3 linked regions of the Homo sapiens genome follow. The protein of the gene in region 2 interacts with the protein of the main gene of each other region in a pairwise test. Each region holds a gene or a part of one and is shown on either strand. Other genes may lie near its edges.

Region 1 (7,063 bases), on a different chromosome or scaffold from region 2:
TATATTCACAGTTTTAAAAAAAAGTTGGTAAAGAAATGACAGAAAAGAACAAAAATGAGACTAGTCTGACGTTAGTCTAAATCACTAATCAGATTTTGTTACACGTTCTGTCCTAGGTCTCTTTTGATTCATGTTCATAGATACTTTTGAACAAAACCAAATCACTCTTTTCCTAGTTTCATGCCATTCTGTGGTATATTTTCGGATATCTTTTCTTATATTCTCAGTTTGAAGATTGCTTTGTTTTTCATCCTAACGGGTATACTATAATTAATGTAGCCAGATCTACACTGTGGAATCTTTGTTTCTATTTTTTTTTTTGCCTTTATGAACAACACATGGTAGAACAGTCTGAAGATAGATCATCTTTGCCAGGATCCATATGTTAGCAAGTAGAAAGTAAAAGGACTTTGGTTTGAATTCTAGATCCACCAGTTTCTTTTAACATTTTTTTTTTTTTGGTTTCCTCATCCATAACATGGGTACATGAAGAATGCCTACTTCATAGGACTATTGTGCCAATTAAACAATATAATGCAAGTACAGCTCTCAGCACAATGCTGTTGTGCAATAAATGTTTGCTGTCCTTGATAATTTCGTGTGAATAAACTCCTAGAAGGCAAAGTTGCTTTCTAATCCATCTTAAAGGACAAACAGAAACTAGCTAAAGAGAGGTGCAGAAAGGAGGGGGCAGACCCAGGAAGTGAAGTTGGTAATAGTAAAACTCTTTTGAAAAGATTTTTCCTTACAAATTATAGAACTTGAGAGCCACACTGCATCAGCAAGAAGCTTCCAAACACAAAACTTCTATTAACTGTGACTCTGCCCAGTGTGCAGCCCAGTTTGTCACGCAATTCCCCATGATCAATGGAAATATGCTTTTCTGGGTACTTGGCAAGATAATACTGATCAAGAAAGTGCTGGCCATTTAAGCCGTGCAATTGGGAGGATGGGATGCCCTTTGATTAGATGAGGAAGCCACAGAGCTGAATTTTGTTTGGTCAGATAACAAGTTTAAATTTCAATATACAGAGGTGTCTAGCGGGCTGTCCAGAAAAAAAAAGATCAGGGCTTGAGATGAGGGTCTGGGTAAGTAGTGTGGAGGCTAGTTGAGGCTGTGATGGTGAGGAACATCTAACTCAGGAATACTGAGTTGTCTTTTGTTTCCCTTCTGATAAGAAGTTGTAAGCTCATCCAGAAATACTCATTTTGCTTTCAATAGATGCTATTGATTGATGTCTCATTTAATTCATAAATTTTAATTTTATTTTCAGTAAACAACAATGTTCAACTTTTATGCACCAAAGTAATACAGAGTCACGCAGCAATAAAATCGTGTTTATTTAGTGATATGACAAGTAGAGAAATCAAACATAATATTTTACAAAATGTACAATTTATATTTTTATAAATACTTTAAAAGAGAGAAGCGGAACACGTGTGGTGGCATTAAAAGAATGTCTAGATTTAATTTTGCAGCCTACCTTGTAGCCTGACAAACCAGATACATGTATGTATACACATATATCTTGATCATGAGTTTTCATAATTATGGCCCAAGGATAAGTTTTGGGCATGTCTACAATAATTCCAAACTCTCATAAAATGTGTGGTCTCTCACCACCAGTCATGTTGATTTTGCTCTATTTTTCTCAAAATTCCACAAAATGCACATTTGAAACAGCTATCAGAGGATGTAAGCAAGTGCTTTGGGCCTCAGTTTACTCATCAGTTAGATGAGAGAATCCCTGCTAATATGCTGTTTCTGCTTAATTAAAAAACTTGGGGGCCTCAGCAGCTTCCAATATATAAATGTCTGAGGGCTATGAGGGACCAGTCATCTTTGTATTGGGAGTTTTCTGTTTAGTTTCTTTCTATTGGAAAGGAGTCAATGTGTCTTAAATGGAGAAAGTTTATGACACCAGTCCACTTAGTAAACATTTCATTACTGTAGATACAACACGTTTCCTAGTGTAAAACTAAACAGAAAAGTAATAGTCATCTCTGGATGTCATGTTGAAGAGCTGCATGTTTCCTTGGATTTGGAGCTTGGAAGTTCAGAGCTGGTTTACCCAAAAAGGGAGCCAATAGAGAATCTTCCCAATGAACCTCAATATATGGTTGTAATACTTGTACAATGAAATGTTAAGTATGATTCTAGACTTCACTGACTCATTACAGTGATATTTTCTTGGAATTGCACTAGTGCACAACAAAATATGATGAGTGCAATGTGAAACAGTCTACAAAGTAAATTATATACTTGTTTTCTTAAATTTATAGAAATTTGCATTTGTAATAAAACCACAGGAAAGTAAGTCATTCCTAAGCCATATCCTGAGCTTACCTTGATTCCAAGTTTACAGTTAATTACATTTTTTGTTAAATAAAAGACAGATATAAAGGTCCTCATATGATCACATTAGGAAAATACATAGGATTCAAGGATGAAATCGTGATTCTTCATTACTTTTCTTATATTCCTTTGATGGTGGGTGGCGCAGCAGCTACAGGTGCTCTGTAGGTGTGCTTCTTGAGTGACAGGTTACATTTTCCCTCTGGTAGTCTTCAGCTCCAGCTCCTGGAGGAAGGCCTCATTGTTCTTAGGACAGTTGGTGTGACAGGTGCAGGTCCCAATGACCATCACTGGCTTCTTGACTATTTGCCCTGGGGAGCACTGAAACTCTGCCTGGATGGTTTTGGTATTGTGGGGAGTGCAGCAGCGGCCATCACTGCAGACCCCACAGAACCTGGGCTTGTAGGTGTGCAGGCTGGTGCAGTTCTTGAACTGCAGGTGGATGGCTTTGAGTGACTTCTTGGTGCGGAGACACTTTTTTCCTTTCTAAGAAAGAAAAAAGAAGTGATGTATTGAATGGCTACCATTCCCCTGAGGGACAATTTTAGAGTATGGAATTACCTGCTAGTTGCCCACCCAATATCTATTGGTCTTTCTTCTTTGCTATCAGAACATTAATTTTGCTTGAGCAATGTAGTCAGCTAAAAGTATTTGCTTCCACAGACTATGTGGGACTTGGGATAACCTTGTGGCAAAGTTCTGGCCAAGAGAATCTGGGAAATTCTTTGCCCTTTGAGTAGGTACAATTCTTTATTGTTCCTGTATTCATTTTCCTTTCTTCCTGGAATGTAAACACCTTGCCTAATTGTACATAATGGTCTTTTGACATTGAGGAGATGAGCATGCAGGTGAAAGCATAACAAAACCTATCTTTTAAGACACTGTAACATGCTTTGGTGTCATTTTTAGCCAAATGGATTTTTACACGTGATACAGTTTGGTTCTCTGTGTTCATACCCAAATCTCTTCTCATATTGTAATCACCACGTGTCAGAGGAGGGGCCTGGTGGGAGGTAATTAGATCATGGGGGCAGATTTTTCCCTTGCTGTTCTCGTGATAGTGAGTTCTCACAAGATCTGATGGTTTAAAAGTGTGGCACTTCCCCTCTCACTGTCTCTCTCTCTCTCTTTCTGCCTTTCTCTCTCTCTTTCTCTCTCTCTCTCTGTCTCTCTCTGTCCTGCTGCCATGTAAGATGTGTTTTGTTTCCCCTTCACCTACTGCCATGATTGTAAGTTTCCTGAAGTTTCCCCAGCCATGTGTAACTGTAAGGCAATTACACATCTTTTCTTTATAAATTACTCAGTCTTGGGTAGTTCTTCATAGCAGTTTGAAAATGGACTAATACAACATGTTATAAAAAGAATGTTTATAAATCTGGCATTATTTTATGTTTCAAATACTCTTCAAACATTAACTCAACCTTATTAACAGTGTTCATTCATACAAGAAATAATCATTCATAGAAAGAACAATTGCCCAAGTTTTACAGATGAAGAAACTGAGTCTCAAAGACCTAAAGGGATCAGAAAACATCTAATATTTGAATTTGTCTGTACAAAGCCCATTCTTTCTATTACGTGATGAACCCAGGAAATTCCAAGACATGGAATTTGCATGGAGGCAAATAAAGTGGAGAATGTTTTCAAGATTGTATTAGTAATGATAAATGAAGAGGCCCAATGTTGATAATTCAGCAAAGAATTGGCTATATTTTATTTCTTACTTATATTTCTTAATCTACTAATTTCCTACAGTTATCCACTGTTCACCTTCATAGGCATGACCCACAGCTTGTGGGGTGATTAGACTTGGAATTATCTTAAATCAGTGGCTCTCAAACTTCAGTGCACATCAAAATCATCTAGAGGATTTCTTAAAACAAGCTGTCAGACCTCACACCCTGAGTTTTGGATTCAGTACATCCGATGTGGGACCCACACCACAAATTTACATTTTAACAACTTCTTAGATGATGCTGCTGGTTTGGGGACCACCCTTTAAGAACCACTGTCGGCCGGGCGCGGTGGCTCAGGCCGGTAATCCCAGCACTTTGGGAGGCCGAGGCGGGCAGATCACAAGGTCAGGAGATCAAGATCATCCTGGCTAACATGGTGAAACCCCGTCTCTACTAAAAAATACAAAAAAATGGTGGAGGGCGTCTGTAATCCCAGCTACTGAGGAGGCTGAGGCAGGAGAATAGCGTGAACCCGGGAGGCGGAGCTTGCGGTGAGCCAAGATTGTGCCACTGCACTCCAGCTTGGGTGACAGAGCAAGACTCCGTCTCAAAAAAAAAAAAAAAAAAAAAAAAAGAACCACTGTCTTAGATTTAAGAATCTCTTGGAGACAAGGAAGTAATGATTGTTATACTAGTACAATTTTTATAAAATATGTATACTATAAATAACCATCTTTAAAATAACATATCCAAATATTAAAGAAGATTCAAGTTACAAGAAAAAATACAAATTTTGCAAAATGACACAATAGAAAAAGCCACATCTTAGAGGCATTAAATGGAAACATCTTGTTTAATAAAGAAGTTGCTGTGCTATTGAAAATATTTAAGGACTTCTTCTTACTTTTTCAATTTAATATTTAGCGTGTATTCTTGTCAACACCCACAAAATGGTACAGGATAACAACATTCCTATGTGTGTGTATGTGTTTGTATGTGAGACTGCTTATGTGGGTGAACCTATATGACTATGTTAGATATATGTTTGAATTCCTCTGAGCGTGGGGAAGTGCATCTCCTAGGATATAATTTTAGGGATAAGGTGTTTCTAGGTGTTCTTTCTAAACTGGTGGAAGAAAAGTAAAGTTAGGATGGACTTCCAAAAATTATATAGCTAAGCAGCCATATAACTAATGCAACCACTAGGGACTCTTATTTTACCAGTAAATAGAAATCATAAGTAATGGTGGCTACTGTTAACAGAGTACTTAATCTATACCCAGCATTTTGCAAATTCATTCTATGTAATCATCGTGACAAGTTAAGGTAGGTACTTTCAGCCGCCCCATTATGTGGGAGAAGGAATTGAGGCTGAGAGGTTAAGAAAATTGCCCAAGATTACATAGCTGGTTCATGTGGAAAGACAGAATTTGAAGCCAAGCTGTCTGGCTCCACAGTTGTCCTCTTACGCATTAGATGATATTGCTTCAGTGTCAAGATATGTAAATCTTGAATTGCTAAGGGCTGTTTTATTTTAGTCTTAGGTTTGTATAAGGATCCATATAATGGTTCAAATTGGGTATTGCATTTTTCTGATATAGGGCTCTGGTAACAAGGCCTGTGATGTCATCAGCAACCAATCAGAGCTTCTGAACTGCACGTCTCACATTCAGTGTTAACATACTGAGTTGATGTAATTCCAACAAAAAAAAAATAAAAAGATATGTGCTGTTTTATTTGGCCCATATTGCTTTATGCTGGCAAATGTATTATTTCCACTAGGTTTTTAAAAATACCAACAATAATTCCCAGACAGTCACTCGCTTATTTATCAACAGTTGTTTATCACGCACACAATATCTGCCAGGTAGAAAGCTGAGGACTGAGAGGTAAGACCCACATGGCCTCTACCCATACATACAGAACCTGACGAATAAAGAGAACTGAGGTCAGAAGTGACCTCTTTAGAATCAGCTGTGCTTGACAACTGTAGCCAGTTTTCTCCAGGAATGGAATGGGATTTGCTAGACCATTCTCTATTGGGAAAAGCATTATAGTTTTCCGGTCCCTCTCCCTCTTTACCTGAGGGTGTACTGTGAGTTGCTTAGAGTATTTCAATATGTTAAAGAGAAAAAAGAAGATAGGCTGGCTTCAAGAACCCCACTGCCTTTTCTCTGGGGTTAACTCCCCGCTATAGCTGCTCTCTCCGTCACAGAGTGACACAGTGACTTTCTGAAGCCCAGGCTCCAAGGACACAAGGCCATTACCTTCAGGATGGGAGGTTTCCTCCAGGCTCCTACCTTATCTGTTGGCTGCTCTGGCTCTTGTTCACAGGGCCGCACCATGCAGAGCCGAGTCTGTTTCAGCATCTCACATTGACGGTTCCTATTGGTGACCCGGGTGGAGAACCCCATACCACAGCTCTTGGAGCATGCTGTCCACTCTGTGGTCTGTTCAATGCAGTTGACACTTGAGTCAGAGACTTCTACTCCTAGGGTGGCTTCTGGCCTGTAAGCTATGGGATGTATAAATAAAGACAGCCATATTAGGTACAATGTGAGGATTGGAAAGTGGTCCTTTTCAGCCATTATTAGAAACTGGGTCTCATTCGACTCTGTACCTACTAAACACCCATGCTCCCAGGACACAGAACTGAATTTATTTATCTATTTATTTATTTCTGGCATGGCTGATAATGTCTGCCCTCAGAAATAGTATACAATTCCGGATACTGCTAATATAAGTAATCTGGCTAATTAATGGCTTCTAAAATAATCCTCTATTGTCTCTTGAGATTTTTTATTTAAACTATTTCATTGATAAGAGAAAACAAAAATAAGAATAAAAAAAGGTCCTGAAGTGCCATCTGAGCCTTACTACAGCATCTAGAAAGATGACACTTTTCAGTGACACCTGTGCAGGGATGAGTAGCCTTCTTTAAGGAGGTTAATCATGAGACGGCCTAGGTAGTGTACAGAATCCAGAAAAGAAAGAGAATTTAAAATTTTGTCTTTGTAGTGCTAATGAGGGT
Region 2 (8,574 bases):
GCCCGTGCTTGGGCTTCTTTATTTTTGGAGCGTTCCAACGTACCACTCACGATGCTGGTGACCCCAGCTGCTGTTGCCAAACCTTGACCAGCGGTGGAGAGCAGCAGGCTTCCTCCTCCTGTTGCTGGGGCAAGGGCTAAACCCAGGAGGCTCATCACTCCAGAGATGACAGCAGTAGAGGTGGCCACCATGTTAGCCTTGGTGAATTTCTTGTGGGTTTTGTCAATATCGTCTGCGAGGGCACGGAGCTTGTCAATGTTCCCTTTCAGATCTTCTTTCAATCTGGGAAATTCTCTCAAAAATATTTTTTCTTCGGGGGACAGATCTCCGTCTTGTAGCTCCACGTCTTCACACAGAGGAGCGTCATCCTCATCCCTGAGGAGAAATGAAATAAAGATTTTGCTTCAGCTTCCCAGATGGGAAAACCCATGTGGCTCTTGGATATTCTTGCCACTCTCAGCTTCGAATCCTCCCTGTACCTCCCTACAAAATCCCCTGAAAAGTCCTAGAGCATTGTAGAGTAGTTCAGCCTTCGCTGAAAACTACTGGTTCCATGGAAAAAAGAAACACATAAGAGGGGCATGTGGAAGGACAAATGTGAATCACCCCAGCCTTGGTCAAGGAATGGGGAAGGAAAATTAAGTCCTGAGGTATGTTTTCAGCCTTGTTCAGAGAAAGCACAGCACTGCTGCAGAGGAGGGGCAGTGGGGAAATGTTAAAACCCCACTCAAGATAAAGAACTTGGGAACAATGGCGGGAGAGTTCTGGGAAAAGTAGGAGAAAGAGAAGACAAGGTGGTGGGCAGGGGATGAGCGTCCCAGATGTGTAGAAGTGAGTAGGAGGGTGGAGGGGGCCATATTGCATCATACATCCTCCACTCTAATGACCTCGAATCTGGTTACTCTGGGGTGTGTCTTTGCTTCTATCAGGAGTTGCACATTGAGAGTTGAGATAAATTATTATTCATGTCCTGAATGCTCTCCTTGCTCTTGGTCAGCTTTACTTGACCCTTCAAGCAGATGGGATTAGTCCTTCATGGAAGAAGTTTGGGACAAAGAGACCTAGGCCCCTCTTCCTCCAACATTTTACAGGATGAAGTACGAAGGGATCTTTGCCAGGCCAGTTGGCTTTGACCTTCAAGGCAGAGCTGCATCAGGGTGAGAGCAAAGCCTGCTGCTTGGGGCATTTTCTCATGCAAGGTGCCATTTGTGCATTTCCTTCAGGGTGAGCCGAGGAGGCCTGGTGATAACAGATGCCCTGGCCCAAAGAAGAACATCAGAGCTGGAGGGAGGCCTGGAGAGGATCTGGGCCACCTCCTTTATGATTCAGTGGGGGGCCTCAAGCCCAGAGAGAAAAGAGGACACTCCCAAAGGAACATGCAAGGTAAAGATGGAGCATTGGGTGGGCTCTGAGTCCTAAACTTGGTGCTTTCTGCCTTTCCTCTCACCTGTCAGTTGATGTCAGGGCCTCCTCATTGAAGTATATGTATGTCCATAAATGTATTTATCTTTAAATCTCTCTTTCCACACACACACGCACACAATTCCTCAGTGGGAAAGATTAGAAACTAAATATACCATCGAGCATATGTTTTAAGTGTTAATGAATTAATAAATTTAGGCACAATTATCTATTAATCCACAGGTGTAAATCAGTTAACAGAGCAGAAGGTCACCAGGGCTTGCAATGGGGAAGGGGTGGGATGAAGGCAAGCGGGGTGGCCCTGACAAAGAACCCCAGACATAAAAGATGCCATAGGTTAGCCCACCCTGATCTCTGTGTTTCCTCAAGGTATGCTAGACAAAAAGAAACAGCAAATAGATATGTAGCTGCAAAGATCAACAACGCCACTGTGTATGAACTGTAAAGTTTTTGGTTTTAGCATGGTTGATAACTAACAGAAGCTTGACTTCATGTGTTTCTTAATTAAACCAAGCGTCTCACATGTGAACACCTCTGCTCCAGTGAATCCTGTATCAGCTGGTGATGTCTACTGGCATTGGATAACATTTCAGTCCAGTTCCATGACATATTACACATAGAGTTCGTCTAATTCACTCAGCAAATATTTGTTACTTGCACACATTGTGCAGGGGGCCGGTGGTGCTACGTCTGCTGATTTACAGACAACTGGGCTTAAATTCATTAATTTGTTAACACCAAATGGCTTCCTTCCTTGGTGATATATGAGCTGAAGAAATGGAGTTCCTGTCTTCAAGACAGTTGCAGAGATGAGGCCCCAGAGTGGAGCAATTTTTGTCTTTGGAGTCCTATTGCCCAAAGCCATGCGCCTGACTTAATCTTGACTTGCTCTCCAAAATATTTACTTTAGCTCCATGAAGTATTTTTTTCCCTAGGGGAACAGATTTTCATATGCATAATGGAGACCAGCGGTAAGATAAGGCCCACTTAACAGCTAATCCTATCAGAGCACATGTATTCCTTATCGTGAGGATGCCTGCAGCATTTCAACAGAATCAGCCCTCTCCCTGGGGACTACACCCTTTGGATTACCTTTGCAAACCAACACCAGCCTCACTTTCTCTCTCCGCCTGGTTGTCCATCAGCCTCTGTGGCAGCAAATCTGTGTCCCCAGGAGTCAAATGATTTTCTGGTCAGGAATGTAGAAAAACAACGTTACTGCACATATGATGAAACCTTATGAAATTCAGGTGTGGAGGGATTTTGGATTATGTACTATCAAAATAACAACCACATAGCATACTAAATATTTGCAAACTATTATTTGAAAATTGTATGTTGAGGTGTAGCTTACATACAATAAATGCATACAGTGAAATAGTCAGTTCAATACATTTTTACCTCTATATTGGAGGGTAGCAGTATACACCATCCCAAAATATGCCACTTTGGCATAAGGATTATTTTGAGCCAAATGTAATTGAGAAGAAGTGGGTACAAGAAAAGTTCTCCACCCTCCCTCTATTTGCCTAAAAGCAAGACATAAATTGACAAAGGTAAAGCTGTCCCTTGTCTCCTCACTAACAAGAAGGATAAAGTTTGATCACCAAAGATGACATTGACTTACTTTCCCACAAGTTGCTCCTGCTGGAGACTCAAAACCCTTTTCCATTGTCTTGCTACTTCTCTAAAAATGTACTGTTCATTGTTGGAGATGTATTGAAGCTGGAATTCAAAGCTACCTCTTTGAGAATTATTTAATCCCTGGATCTCTCCCATGTCCATATGAAATAGACATGTTAATACGCTTCTGCTTGGTTTTCTCTCGTTAATGTGTCTTGGGTTACAGGAGTCTGTTCCAGCTAAGAACTTATGAGGGTTGAGAAAAAAATTACTTTTCCTCCCATACATAGCCAAGGGCTGGTAACAACTCAAATACATCAATCAACAGAAGAATAAACAAACAAATTATAGTTTTTTTATATAGTTAAATATTACATAGCAATAACAATTTTGAAAACTACTGATACCCAAACAACATGGAATAATTTCACAGACATTATTATTGAGTGAAAGAAATCAAACAAATGGCTCCATTTATATGAAACTCAATAATATGCAAATGAATTGGTTGTAGAAGTCAGAATCGAGGTTTCTTCTCGGGTAGTGCGATTATTGACTGGGAGGAGGAAGTACAAGGAAATCTCCTTTTCTCCATCTTGACCTGGGTAAGTGATTCCTTAGATGGATATTATAAGAGAGGAAAAAATAATTTTCCCTCTGCCCTTCTAAGTTCTCAGCTAGGATCCTTGTAACCCAAGACAGATTCATAAGAGAAAAACAAACAGGAGTGGATTAATATGTACCTCTTAAGTGTATGTAGGAGACACCAGGGAATAAATAATTCTCAAAGGAGTGGCTTGGAACTCCCTGCTTATATAGCCACCTTCAACAAAGAACTATACAATTTTAGAGAAGGGACAAGATGAAGAAAAAAGACTTTGCATCTTGAGGGCCACCAAATTGTGGGTAGACAAATAAATAGGAAATGAAGGATAGAAAGAAACTAGTCAGTAAGTTTTGTTACGCAGCTTCCTCTGGTACCATCTCCAGGCCTATAAGGGTCTAAAGTTCTCAGTGGTTAACCTTTATTCTCCTTGATAGAAAGACCTTTGTAAATTTAGATCTTGCTTTTAGGCAAATAGAGAGAGGACAGAGAACCTTCCTGCATCTGCTGCTTCTTAATTGCCTTCGCCTCAATAATCCCTATGCCAAAGAGGCATATCTGGGGGTAGCTTATTCTGTTCTCTCACAATTATGACCACATAGACTGTAATGATTAAAGGATCATTTTCACCAAACAAAGCAGTAATTTACAAGGCCCCTTTGTACAAATTGTATTCCCAAGAACATAATATGTTGTGATATTGTGATTTATAATTATATATAGATATATAATTACATATACGTGTGTATATATATGTGTGTGTATGTGTGTGTGTGTATATATACATATATATATATATAGAGAGAGAGAGAGAGAGAGTTCTTATCCCCATTTCTGGCACAGGGCTCTTAAAACCCTTGGAATTTCCTGAGCGATGAGAGCAGTAAAGGTGAAAAGAGCATCTTTTCTTAACCATAACCGACCCCTTTTAGCCACACCCGAGTTTATGTTAATGAGGTGACTTTAGAAAGCCTCCAAGGATGGGGGGCTGCTTGTCTGGGGAAACAACCATGTGATTTGAGGGTTGGAATATTCAGCCCTACCCCTTGAGTTCCAGGAGAGGAGAGAGACGGGAGATTGAGTTAACCACAAATGGCCCATAGTTTCTTTAATCCATCATGCCTGTGTAAGGAAGCCTCCATAGAAACCCAAAAGGACAGGGTTCAGAGAGCTTCTGGGTTGGTGAACACATGGAGGTACCTGGAGGGTGGTGTGCCCAGAGAGGGCATGGGAACTCCATGTCTCTTCCCCCATATCTTGCCCTGTGCATCAATTCCGTCTGGCCATTCTTGAGTTGGATCCTTTATAATAAACTAGTCATTGTAAATAAGTGTTTCCCTGAGTTTTGCAAGCTGTTCTAGCAAATTATTGAAACTGAGGAGGGAGTTGTGGAAACCTTCCATGTGTCACCAAGTTGGACAAAAGTTGTGGGCAACCTGGGGACCCACCACTTACAACTGGTGTCTGAAGTAGGGGCAGTCTTATGGGACTGAGCCCTTAACCTGGGGGATCTGATAGTATCTCCAAGGAGATAGTGTCAGAATTGAGTTAAACTGTAGGATGCCAAGTTTGTTCTCATAAAGAAGTGGAGAATTGCTTGGTGTAGGGAAAAAAACTCACATATTTTGGTGACCAGAAGAAGGTAAATTGGTGTGAGTATTGAGGGTAGTAGTAGAGTTCAGCCTCCTTCCTTCACCTCTCTCGCACACGCCCTCTTGCCCTTCTGCCTTCTGCCTTCTGTCATGGGATAACACAGCAAGAAGGTCCTTGCCACGTATCTCAAAATAATAAGAGCTATCTATGACAAACCCACAGCCAATATCATACTGAATGGGCAAAAACTGGAAGCATTCCCTTTGAAAACTGGCACAAGACAGGGATGCCCTCTCTCACCACTCCTATTCAACATAGCGTTGGAAGTTCTTGCCAGGGCAATCAGGCAGGAGAAAGAAATAAAGGGCATTCAATTAGGAAAAGAGGAAGTCAAATTGTCCCTGTTTGCAGATGACATGATTGTATATCTAGAAAACCCCATTGTCTCAGCCCAAAATCTCCTTAAGCTGATAGGCAACTTCAGCAAAGTCTCGGGATACAAAATCAATGTGCAAAAATCACAAGCATTCTTACACACCAATAACAGACAAACAGAGAGCCAAATCATGAGTGAACTCCCATTCACAATTGCTTCAAAGAGAATAAAATACCTAGGAATCCAACTTACAAGGGATGTGAAGGACTTCTTCAAGGAGAACTACAAACCACTGCTCAATGAAACAAAAGAGGATACAAACAAATGGAAGAACATTCCATGCTCATGGGTAGGAAGAATCAATATCATGAAAATGGCCATACTGCCCAAGGTAATTTATAGATTCAATGCCATCCCCATCAAGCTACCAATGACTTTCTTCACAGAATTGGAAAAAACTACTTTAAAGTTCATATGGAACCAAAAAAGAGCCCACATTGCCAAGTCAATCCTAAGCCAAAAGAACAAAGCTGGAGACATCACGCTACCTGACTTCAAACTATACTACAAGGCTACAGTAACCAAAACAGCATGGTACTGGTACCAAAACAGAGATATAGACCAATGGAACAGAACAGAGCCCTCAGAAATAATGCCGCATATCTACAACTATCTGATCTTTGACAAACCTGACAAAAACAAGAAATGGGGAAATGATTCCCTGTTTAATAAATGGTGCTGGGAAAACTGGCTAGCCACACGCAGAAAGCTGAAACTGGATCCCTTCCTTACACCTTATACAAAAATTAATTCAAGATGGATTAAAGACTTAAATGTTAGACCTAAAACCATAAAAACCCTAGAAGAAAACCTAGGCAATATCATTCAGGACATAGGCATGGGCAAGGACTTCATGTCTAAAACACCAAAAGCAACGGCAACAAAAGCCAAAATTGACAAAGGGATCTCATTAAACTAAAGAGTTTCTGCACAGCAAAAGAAACTACCATCAGAGCGAACAGGCAACCTACAGAATGGGAGAAAATTTTTGCAATCTACTCATCTGACAAAGGGCTAATATCCAGAATCTACATGAACTCAAACAAATTTACAAGAAAAAAACAAACAACTCCATCAAAAAGTGGGCGAAGGATATGAACAGACACTTCTCAAAACAAGACATTTATGCAGCCAAAAGACACATGAAAAAATGCTCATCATCACTGGCCATCAGAGAAATGCAAATCAAAACCACAATGAGATACCATCTCACACCAGTTAGAATGGCGATCATTAAAAAGTCAGCAAACAACAGGTGCTGGAGAGGATGTGGAGAAATAGGAACACTTTTACACTGTTGGTTGGACTGTAAACTAGCTCAACCATTGTGGAAGTCAGTGTGGCGATTCCTCAGGGATCTAGAACTAGAAATACCATTTGACCCAGCCATCCCATTACTGGGTATATACTCAAAGGATTATAAAACATGCTTCTATAAAAACACATGCACACATATGTTTATTGCGGCACTATTCACAATAGCAAAGACTTGGAACCAAGCCAAATGTCCAACAATGCTAGACTGGATTAAGAAAATGTGGCACATATACACCATGGAATACTATGCAGCCATAAAAAAGGATGAGTTCGTGTCCTTTGTAGGGACATGGATGAAGCTGGAAACCATCATTCTCAGCAAACTATCGCAAGGACAAAAAACCAAACACCGCATGTTCTCACTCCTAGGTGGGAATTGAACAATGAGAACACATGGACACAGGAAGGGGAACGTCACACACCGGGGCCTGTTGTGGGGTGGGGGGAGTGGGGAGGGATAGCATTAGGAGTTATACCTAATGTTAAATGATGAGTTAATGGGTGCAGCACACCAACATGGCACATGTATACATTTCTCCGGGTGAAATTATCCTGGATTCAGGGTGGCCCTGAAATCCATCACTGATGTCATTATAAGAAGAGGAGGTGACAGAGAGAGACACAGCAAAGAAGGCTGCACGCAGACAGAGGCAGAAATTAGAGTCGTGCTGTCAGAAGCCACCGAGGCTGCAAAAGGCACAGATGGTCTCCCTGGAGCCTGCAGCAGAAGTGCGCCCTACTGGCACTGGGATTTTTGACTTCCAGCCTCCAGAACTGTGAGACACTAAATGTCTGTTGTTTGAAGCCACCTGGTTTGTGGTGCTTTCTGACAGCAGCCCTAGGGAAGCCAATACATTCCTTTGCATCTCTTCTCTACATTTGGTACTTGGTCCAGCGCTTACGGCAGAAATGCTGTTTCCTAGATATAGCTTCTCCCTCAGCTCATCCTCCCTTCTCTCATCCTCTTCCCTTCCACTTCTAAAAAGTTAGAAAAAAACATCCTCCCTCACACACTCTGAAGGGACACAAATTCTTTATTTTTAAAAAAATTTTTTTTTTTTTTTGAGACTGAATTTTGCTCTTGTTGCCCGGGCTGGAGTACAATGGCATGATCTTGGCTCACTGCAACCTCCACCTCCCAGATTCAAGCGATTCTCCTGCTTCAGCCTACCAAGTAGCTGGGATTACAGGCACGTACTAACACACCCGGCTAATTTTTGTATTTTTAGTAGAGATGGGGTTTCACAAGGTTGGCCAGGCTGGTCTTGAACTCCTGACCTCAGGTGATCCACCCACCTCGGGCTCCCAAAGTGCTGGGATTACAGGCATGAGCCACCATGCCCAGCCCAGGACACAAATTTTTATAGCCATTCATTTATAGCCATTCATTCATTCATTCACTTATAGCCATGAATACAAGTTTAAGGTTGAAAATTTAGAAATAAATTATAAAATCCACCTTACGCTCACCATATGGAAATGCATGCTGTTCATGTAGTTTGTGTGAATTCTTGTCACCTAACATTGTATCTTAGTAGTTCCCCAGGCGATACATAGAAGCCATGTCGCATTTCATTTT
Region 3 (8,574 bases), on a different chromosome or scaffold from region 2:
TGCGTTTTGTTGGGTTATCTTCACCTTGTTTTCTTAAACTGCTGTAATGGGAGCAAGATGTAGCACTCAGATAACATTTAATTTTCCTGTCTCCAAAAAAAAAAAAAAAAAATCACTTACCCATACACTGTCTCATTTGAACTAGAAAATAACATTGTAAGATGGAGAAAGCATATATTATCTCCATTATACAGATATGGAAACCAGGATTCAGAGAAATCACTTTTCCCAAGACATGGAAAAAAGACAGTGAAACTGGGCCACAAGTTCAAGATTTTTGGCTCTAAATCTACTATTCCTCTTAAATTAAGGTATGGTAATTAAATTAATTTTTTAAAATTAAGGATTAAAGTGATATTTAAGGTCATTAAACACACCTGTATTGGCACTGCTGCTGGCTATGAAACTCACCACCAAAGGTAAACGATTAAATTGAACCACCTAAAAAGAAAATAAGAGCCAAATAATATGTTGCATTATGAAAAGGTAGTATAACTAAACTGAAATGTCTTAATCTTTCAAAAACTTTAAAATCATCAATGTTTTAGCCCAACATTATGGTATTATATTATGAAACAGAAAGGAACTTTATATTTCAGTGAATATTTCCATAAAACAGAATTAGTGATGATCTCTTAGAGACATTAATACCATTTGGCCTGGAAAGTTTTTAAGGTGAAACCATATCTTCATCTTTTTATCTCTAAAGCCCAACAGAATATCAATTACATTGTAAGGACTTAATAAATAGTTGATAATTAAATGGATAAATGCAGTATTTCTCAGTTATTCAAGTAGTTTTATCTTCATGATATTTTCTGGTTCTTGTGTATTACTGTAATTTAAATTAAATTTAAAGTAACTTTAAATCAACTACCTTCAAAAAAAAAGAAAACTTAGTTTAAACCTAATCCTTATTGATGAAATTAAAGGTCAGATGGTTTGGTTATCTTTTACTTAATACACATTAAAATATATAACTTTTAAAATAAAAGATGGGCCTGGCACGGTGGCTCACATCTGTAATCCCAGCACTCTGGGAGGCTGAGGTGGATGGATCACTTGAGGCCAAGAGTTCAAGACCAGCCTGGCCAACATGGTGAAAGTCCGTCTCTACCAAAAATACAAAAATTAGCCAGGCCTGGTGGCACATGCCTGTAATCCCAGCTACTTGGGAGGCTGAGGCGTGAGAATCACTTGAACCTGAGAGGCGGAGGCTGCAGTGAGCTGAGATCATGCCACTGCACTCCAGCATGGGGCAACAGAGCCAGACTCTGTCTTGGAAGAAAAAAAAAAAAAGAGTAACTTACATCAATTGATTAGGAAACATCGCTCTAAAGCACAAGGAATTAATTTAGTCTTAAGAAAATGTAGCTTGAGATCAAGAGACATGCAAAAACTAAAAACTAACTTCTTTCCCACAAATAATAATCTCATTTATTACATATATATATTTCCAAAAAATGAAGGAATTAGCAGCAAGAGCAAATTTAATAAACTTTCAAGGAAAGTTTTTTTTATCTGTTACTACAACAAAAAAAGTGTGTCAGCTGAGAAATCACAGTTGTTTAGCTAACGGCACCATCTACTGGAGGTAACAGTGACCTGACATACTCTTTTTAGGATAACATGTACTTTATTAAATCACTTAATTACTTTTCCATAGTAATTATTTCCTGGTATGAAATGTGAAGAAAATTACTACATTTTAATACAACCAATTTGAAGGCTAAAATTTTACAATTTCATCCTCTTCAAAACTAAAATTGAGAACTATAACACAAACTATTTTATATATATAAAAGGCACAAAAATGACAACTGAAATCAGCAAATCATTTTATAATTATGAACTTACCTGGTAGGTGTTATAGTAACAGATGATACTTTTATTTTTGGAAAGTCCAAGTTTGCTTCCTTGGTCTGTTGCAAGGGCAAAAGTGGATAAGAAACCAGGTCGCAAAGCATGCTCTGGAGCATTGTCATTTGCCACTAGAAAAATAAGTGATTTAAATAAAAATTATGCAGAGGATATGGTAGAGAGATTTACAGCCCTTTTTTTTCATAAACCTCTTTTTAAAATTGAACACAAAGGTTATGTTTCACAATATTGAAAATCATATCACTAATGGGGTCTCATCACTAATCAGGAAAAACTGCTCAATCAAAAGTTCACTGATCACAAGTAAGAGAAAAAATGCTGACTCTCACAATTTTTTTAAATTTTAAAAAGAAAACTAAATGTTTACATTTTCTTGATATCTAACTTAAAACAGATTAATCAAGTACATTTAACTGGTTATCTGAGGACTAGGCTAGAATAAACTAATGAAAAAAGTTACAAAACTTCTGCTCTTATAAAACCCACAGCAGCAGTATCTCTCATAGATATTAACAATCTGCAGCTGGTTACCTGTTTCATGTTTCTCTCACTCATTAAAAGGTTTGCATGGAGTTTGTTATATTAATGAGTGCAGGGCTCAAGGCTTTAACACAGAGATCCTCATGAAGAATATTAGAGCTGGAAAATCTGAGATTATTTTGTTCAAATCCCTCATTACGGAATTAAGAGAAGGCAAGCAATCTGTCCACAGCCATTCAACAGCCATTTTATAGTGGGTTAGAAAGCACACTGGACCACACATCAGGAGATTATGGGTTCTATTACTGTTTTGTTACTGACTCATGTCCGACTTTGGACGGCAATGTCCGAAGATTATAAACCACAGGACCTCCTTTGTTCTTATAATGTGTTTGCCAAAATTCTCCCAGAAATGGAATCAATGTGTATTACAGAAATGTTTATAATCTTTACAAATTCATGCAGTTTATTAATAAGAATCTAAGACATAGCTAACTCTCCATTAAAACTGCTAAGAAGTCCAAGTGTCTTTGCACTTTATCACCTTCACTTATAAAATGAAAGAACTACATTAGTTGACTTCTAAACCTCCTTTCATTTCTAAAGTCTAAAATTATCTGATATATATGACAACTCCAGGTGGAAAATTGTAAACAAAATATACAGAACATTATCCAATCTTTAATCTTTGATAAAGCCACTATAGTGTCCCAATAAAACTAGGAACATCCATTCTCATAATACCATAATATAGAAATAGTAAAAATTGTCTGAATCCATACTGACTCTCTGTGACATCATGTTTACTTATGATCCAAATACATGGGTATTATCCTAAAACAACTAGCAATTTGATAAAATGTGTGTGTGGTATGTATATATATACACACACACATATATATATAGTAGGGGTGTCTGTGTGTATATCTAGCTGAATACATGCTCACTCTCATCACTTAGATTTACTAATGGTTTACGTTACACTGTAAATGTCTTTAATGGGAAATGGGTCTGTGATAAATCCATGCTTAAACTCTAGATGTTAATATGATACATGTGATATATAATACATTGTAGATTCAAATTCAACCTTCAACATACAAAAGCAAACACTTTCCCCAATACTAAGACCATCTCCCAAATTTACTAAAATGAATTTTATGTTTGCCTGCTGTACTACTCAGATGTAAATTACACACATTTTTAGTCAAAAGCAAAGAAGACATTTGCATTTAAATGTTCAGTTTTACCTTTAATAACAGGTACTCCATCTCTATCTGACACAACAATGGCATGGAGCCCTTCAACACTAGAAAAAGAAAATAGTTAAAATATAAAAAAAGTTAAAATATAAAATTTTAAAAAGTTAAAATATAAAATATTTCATTTTCTCAAACTATGCACCTCAAAGACATAATAATTCTCATGTATTTTCTGAAAAACCACAGACCCCAAAATTCTCCCAGAAATTGAATCAATGTGTATTATAGAAATGTTTATAATATTTACAAGTTCATGCAGTTTATTAATAAGAATCTAAGACATAGATAACTCTCCATTAAAACTACTAATGAATGATCAGTCCATGGTACACAAAAGCATGAAAGATTATCAGCAGGGGCTATAGTGACAAAAAACAGCCTTTTTCCTTTTTCATTCATGCAAATATTAAGCGGCCAGTATTTGTGGCACTTAATACTTTGATACTATGAAAAACAGAAATAAGCACAATCATTGCCTTCACATGGCTTCCAATGTAAAAAGTGAATGTGTTACCAATAAAATAATCTCACAATAACAAACGTAAAACTAAAACTGGTGGCAAGTGTTGTTAAAAAGTTCATAGGGATATGAGAACCTAGAAAAGAGGAGGCTGATGCAGACAGACAGTGGGCCAGAGAAGGCTTTCCTGGAGGCAGTAATACATCAGCTGAGACGTTATGGCACTAAGTGAAAAGACGTGGAAAAACTGTTCCTGGCTGAAGAAACAGGGCAAAAGGAATGCAGGCTATGCAGTAATCCTTTCAGCCATGCTTACGTAAGAAGTAGTAAGCAGAACGGTCAAGCTATAGCTCTAAAGTTAGAAAGATCTGGGTTCCAGTCCAGGCTCTGCCACTTATTATTTATGCTATCTTGGGCTAGTTATGAAACCTTTACAAGCCTCAGATTAACAATTTGAAAATGGGAATAACTGTACTTACTTAGATACTGTGAAATTTAATAATACAAGGCATGTAAAGTGTAGGCTGGCACATAATTCAAAAATATCACTTATTAACTAATACCAGTGGTGTCAATTGTGCACACTGACAATGACATAATTTATCACTAAAGTACTAAGTTATCAGTGAGAATCCCTGGGAAATTAGCAATTAAGAAACATATGGTAGAGCACAAATATACTGTGTTAAAAAATATAAGGTGACACTCCTCGACTTTCAACATTTATGCAAAACCCTTTCATTGTTAACATAAATCTTATAGTCCTGTAACTATCTTATGGTATCTATAAACTACAACTCAGAGATATGTTCAATGTCCCTACAGCAACCCGGAATGATCTATTCTTTGTGTTAACTTTAATGTATTAACTAAGGAATAAGAAATACTTATATTAACCTAATGTTTAAATACTGACATTAAATTTTTTAAAATCCCATTGTCAAAAACTTTTAAGTCAGAAAAGTGTTATTAAATATGAATGGAAAATGTTACAAACAAAATCATTTGTCTTCCTTACATTAAAAATAAGAATAAAATAACTTTATAAATGACTTTTATACTATTTTTATCCTATTATTGGCATGATTTCCTAATCATTCAATCCTAAACTTATTTATAGATTAAAATATATCTCTAAGATTAATACATAACATAGGCCGGGCACAGTGGCTGACGCCTGTAATCCCAGCAATTTGGGAGGCCAAGGTGGGCAGATCACCTGAGGTCAGGAGTTTGAGACCAGCCTGGCCAACATGATGAAACCCCGTCTCAGCCAAAAACACAAAAATTAGCTGGGTGTGGTGGTGCTTGTCTGTAATCCCAGCTACTTGGGAGACTGAGGCATAAGAATCGATTGAACCTGGGTTGCAGTGAGCCAAGATTGCGCCACTGCACTCCCAGCCTGGGTGACAGAACGAGAGTCTGTCTCAACAACAACAACAAAAAGATTAATACATAAAATAAATATATTCTTCTAAGTTAAAAACTAGGTTATATAAAACATATACTACAGATATTTGTACATAAGCCAATTATTTTGTGCAGTTACCAAAAGCAACATCATTTGAAACAGTAAAGCATTACAAATCCAACTGTCCATCAAGAAGGACAAGGTAAGTTATGATATACACCTACAAAGGAATACTCTGGAATACTCTGCAGCCATGAGAAAGAGGAAGTTCTCTATGTACCAGGAAAGATTACTCTCAAAGTTACATTCTTAAGTGAAAAAATACACAGTTTAGAACAGTGTATAGAAGAAGCAATAAATTATGTACCAAAATATGCAGGCATATGTGTATGTTGTGTGTATAAATACGTGTATATACATGTCTGCTCATAGGTACATAAAATATCTCTGTAGGTAATGGTGGGTGCCTCTTTGAGGGGAAACTGTGCATGTGGCTGGAGAGGAAGGATGGGCAGCTTCTCACTCTATGTTCTTCAGTTAAGTCTTGAATCTGAACTCTGTGAATGTACTACTTACCCCCAAAATAAATTAAAAAGCAGGTAAAAAGAGGACCACAAAAATGTTTAGAAAAATTAGTGCCACCACAGGTAGCTTCTTTTTTTAAATTTCCATGGAAATTACTTTAAATACAACTAATGCTCCAAAGAAAATAAAAGGACTTTCTTTTTGATGGACTTCACAGAGAAATGAATCAAGAAAGTAGAAAAATTACTTACACTCTTAAGTATATAATTTTAGAAATCAGGTCACAAATATAAAAGCTGTTTTCAATTCTACATACAATGCGCAAAGAGTAATATAAATAGAATTTACTAATAATTAAAAATAACTGGCTCATTAAGAGATACTACACTTTTAGAAGAAATGAATTAAATTTTGTGAAATATTCTGAAGAAATCTAAACCTTAAGCTTACTAAAACAACCATTTTTTTCTAAAAACAAATGTTGCATTACTAATCAAAGACATCGGATTTAGTTTTATACACATAATTATGAAATATTTGGTTGTTTTAAAACATACAAAGTGGGATTATTAAAGCCTGAGACTGCTTTGGGTCACAACCAGATTTTAAATTGCAAATACAAGAACGATATTTTGCAGAGAATTCAAAAAACGCACAAAAACACACATTCCATTAGTATCCGTAGCTGGCTGACTTTGTTACTGAGAGGCACTGAGGTACAACAGTTAAAAGCATGAATCCATGGCTCTGAAGCAGGATGCCTGCATCCAAACCCATACATCTAGCAACAAATCAAAGCGTATATTCTACTATTCTTCATAAATGTTCAAAACATTATTATTTCTTCATTATTACTGTTCTGGGATGCAATAAGCCTATTTTCAATAAATGATATAATGAGTTGAACTGGCTTTTTTTCATTATTAAAAAAAAAACTGACAGTACTAATACCTTTCCTGCCATTATGAAAGATTTTCATAAAGCTTTTAACAAATATCCTTTAACTGAATTTATTTCTTGGATAAGCACAACAACCTGATATTTCCCCTTTTGTTAAAAGATAAGAGACATCTAAATTCAAAGAAGAAGCAAGCATTTACTTTCCAACTATTTTTGATCAACATTAGAACTACTCAGTAATATAATAAATACTTTTGGTATTATTCTCTAATTCCTTTACACAGACAGCTTCATCATATCCAGTGTCACACGCTATTATGATTTTGAGAGCACACTTAATAGTTAAAATGAGATCCCCATTGTCTGAAACATTTTTATTGCTTATAATCACAGATGATGTAATTAGAATCAATTATTGCTTTATTAGATCTCCAGGTGACTAATGAGTATCTTTCTGGTCGGTTTATAACTTAAGAACATTGAATGCAATTTTGCTGTTTCTTCAATAAGAGATGCTAACACTCAAAAGAGGACTGTAAATCACTAAGACTTCTAAGTGAATTAACTATGTACTATTAACTATTTCATCATATCACCAGCGTAGTGGGGTATCTCTCCGTCCCAATTTGAGCGCCCTTTCATTACGCTAAGGTAACTACAGAAAAACACAGAAAGCCCTCATTTTGCATAGTTCCAATATGCACATTTTAGTTACTATGGTTAAGTAATACCACTCCCTGCAGAAGAGCACAGGTCAAATTTTAGTTAGCATGGCATAATACCTCAATAACTACGTAAAGTATAAACTTTTCTAACTCTTTAGTCCACAAATCACTACATAAATAATTATGTAATTAACAGATGCACACTGTCATCAGTAACCAGCCACATCATTTCTTTCAAAGTATGTTGATGGTTGGTCACTGTGCATCTGTTATGCAGCTCATGCAGAGATAGCAAAGCATGTAGTTTTGTACCTCCTTGTCTCCCAATGATAAAGTATGTGACATTTAGAAAAAGAGATAATAAAAAGAGGAAACTGGCCAACAAAGACGAAATACAGCAAAGAAATGAAAAGTAATAATGCTGAAATTTCAAATAGAAATGCTGAATTTCAAATAGAAAGTAAAGAATTATAGAAGAAACAGATGACCAAGGGAATGCTGACACTATCGCTCTAGATACACAGAGAACTCAGTGAAGGCAAACTTATTGACATAAATGAGGAAAGCGGTTGTGACGAAAATTTTCCAGAGGACGTGAGGCTGGCAAAAAATATTCATATTAAAGGAAATCTCAGAGATACTTCACAACATGGAAAATACAGACAAAATGCTTCATAAAATTAACATATGGCATATAGAATTTATTCAATAACAAATTAAAAATTTCTTACCTTGGTAACTTTTTATACAAGAATCGCTTTAGGTCCTGAAAGAGAGCATTAAAAAATAATGTTGTAATAATAGGCCTTCCACTGTTTTCTAGATCCTGTCCTATCCAAATTTTAAGGAACTTCAGTTATCATTCATAACCTTTCTTGCTGTGTTTTATCTTTCTCTGTCTGATTTGGATGTTTACTAGTCACGCAACTTGGAGTAAGTTAACCAACCTTTTTTCGCTAAGCTTATTTCATTATTTGTTGAATAGGGCTA

What was found. Proteins that work in one complex are often made in the same cells at the same time.
Region 1: the proteins of APOL6 (region 2) and CCN3 interact in binary tests that used the Homo sapiens proteins (3 or more experiments, as listed by UniProt).
Region 3: the proteins of APOL6 (region 2) and LAMTOR3 interact in binary tests that used the Homo sapiens proteins (3 or more experiments, as listed by UniProt).

What each region holds. Positions count from the first base shown.
Region 1 is NC_000008.11:119,418,615-119,425,677, reverse strand, and holds the end of CCN3 (CCN family member 3 precursor), read right to left. Parts: intron 6,548-7,063; coding exon 6,333-6,547; intron 2,843-6,332; coding exon 2,546-2,842; 3' UTR 1,244-2,545; downstream 1-1,243. UniProt on the Homo sapiens protein: Immediate-early protein playing a role in various cellular processes including proliferation, adhesion, migration, differentiation and survival. Acts by binding to integrins or membrane receptors such as NOTCH1.
Region 2 is NC_000022.11:35,650,416-35,658,989, reverse strand, and holds part of APOL6 (apolipoprotein L6), read right to left. Parts: intron 5,387-8,574; exon of another isoform or gene 5,270-5,386; intron 2,612-5,269; 5' UTR 2,565-2,611; coding exon 2,515-2,564; intron 376-2,514; coding exon 1-375. UniProt on the Homo sapiens protein: May affect the movement of lipids in the cytoplasm or allow the binding of lipids to organelles.
Region 3 is NC_000004.12:99,883,685-99,892,258, forward strand, and holds part of LAMTOR3 (ragulator complex protein LAMTOR3), read right to left. Parts: intron 8,351-8,574; coding exon 8,316-8,350; intron 3,671-8,315; coding exon 3,612-3,670; intron 1,992-3,611; coding exon 1,858-1,991; intron 442-1,857; coding exon 378-441; intron 1-377. UniProt on the Homo sapiens protein: As part of the Ragulator complex it is involved in amino acid sensing and activation of mTORC1, a signaling complex promoting cell growth in response to growth factors, energy levels, and amino acids.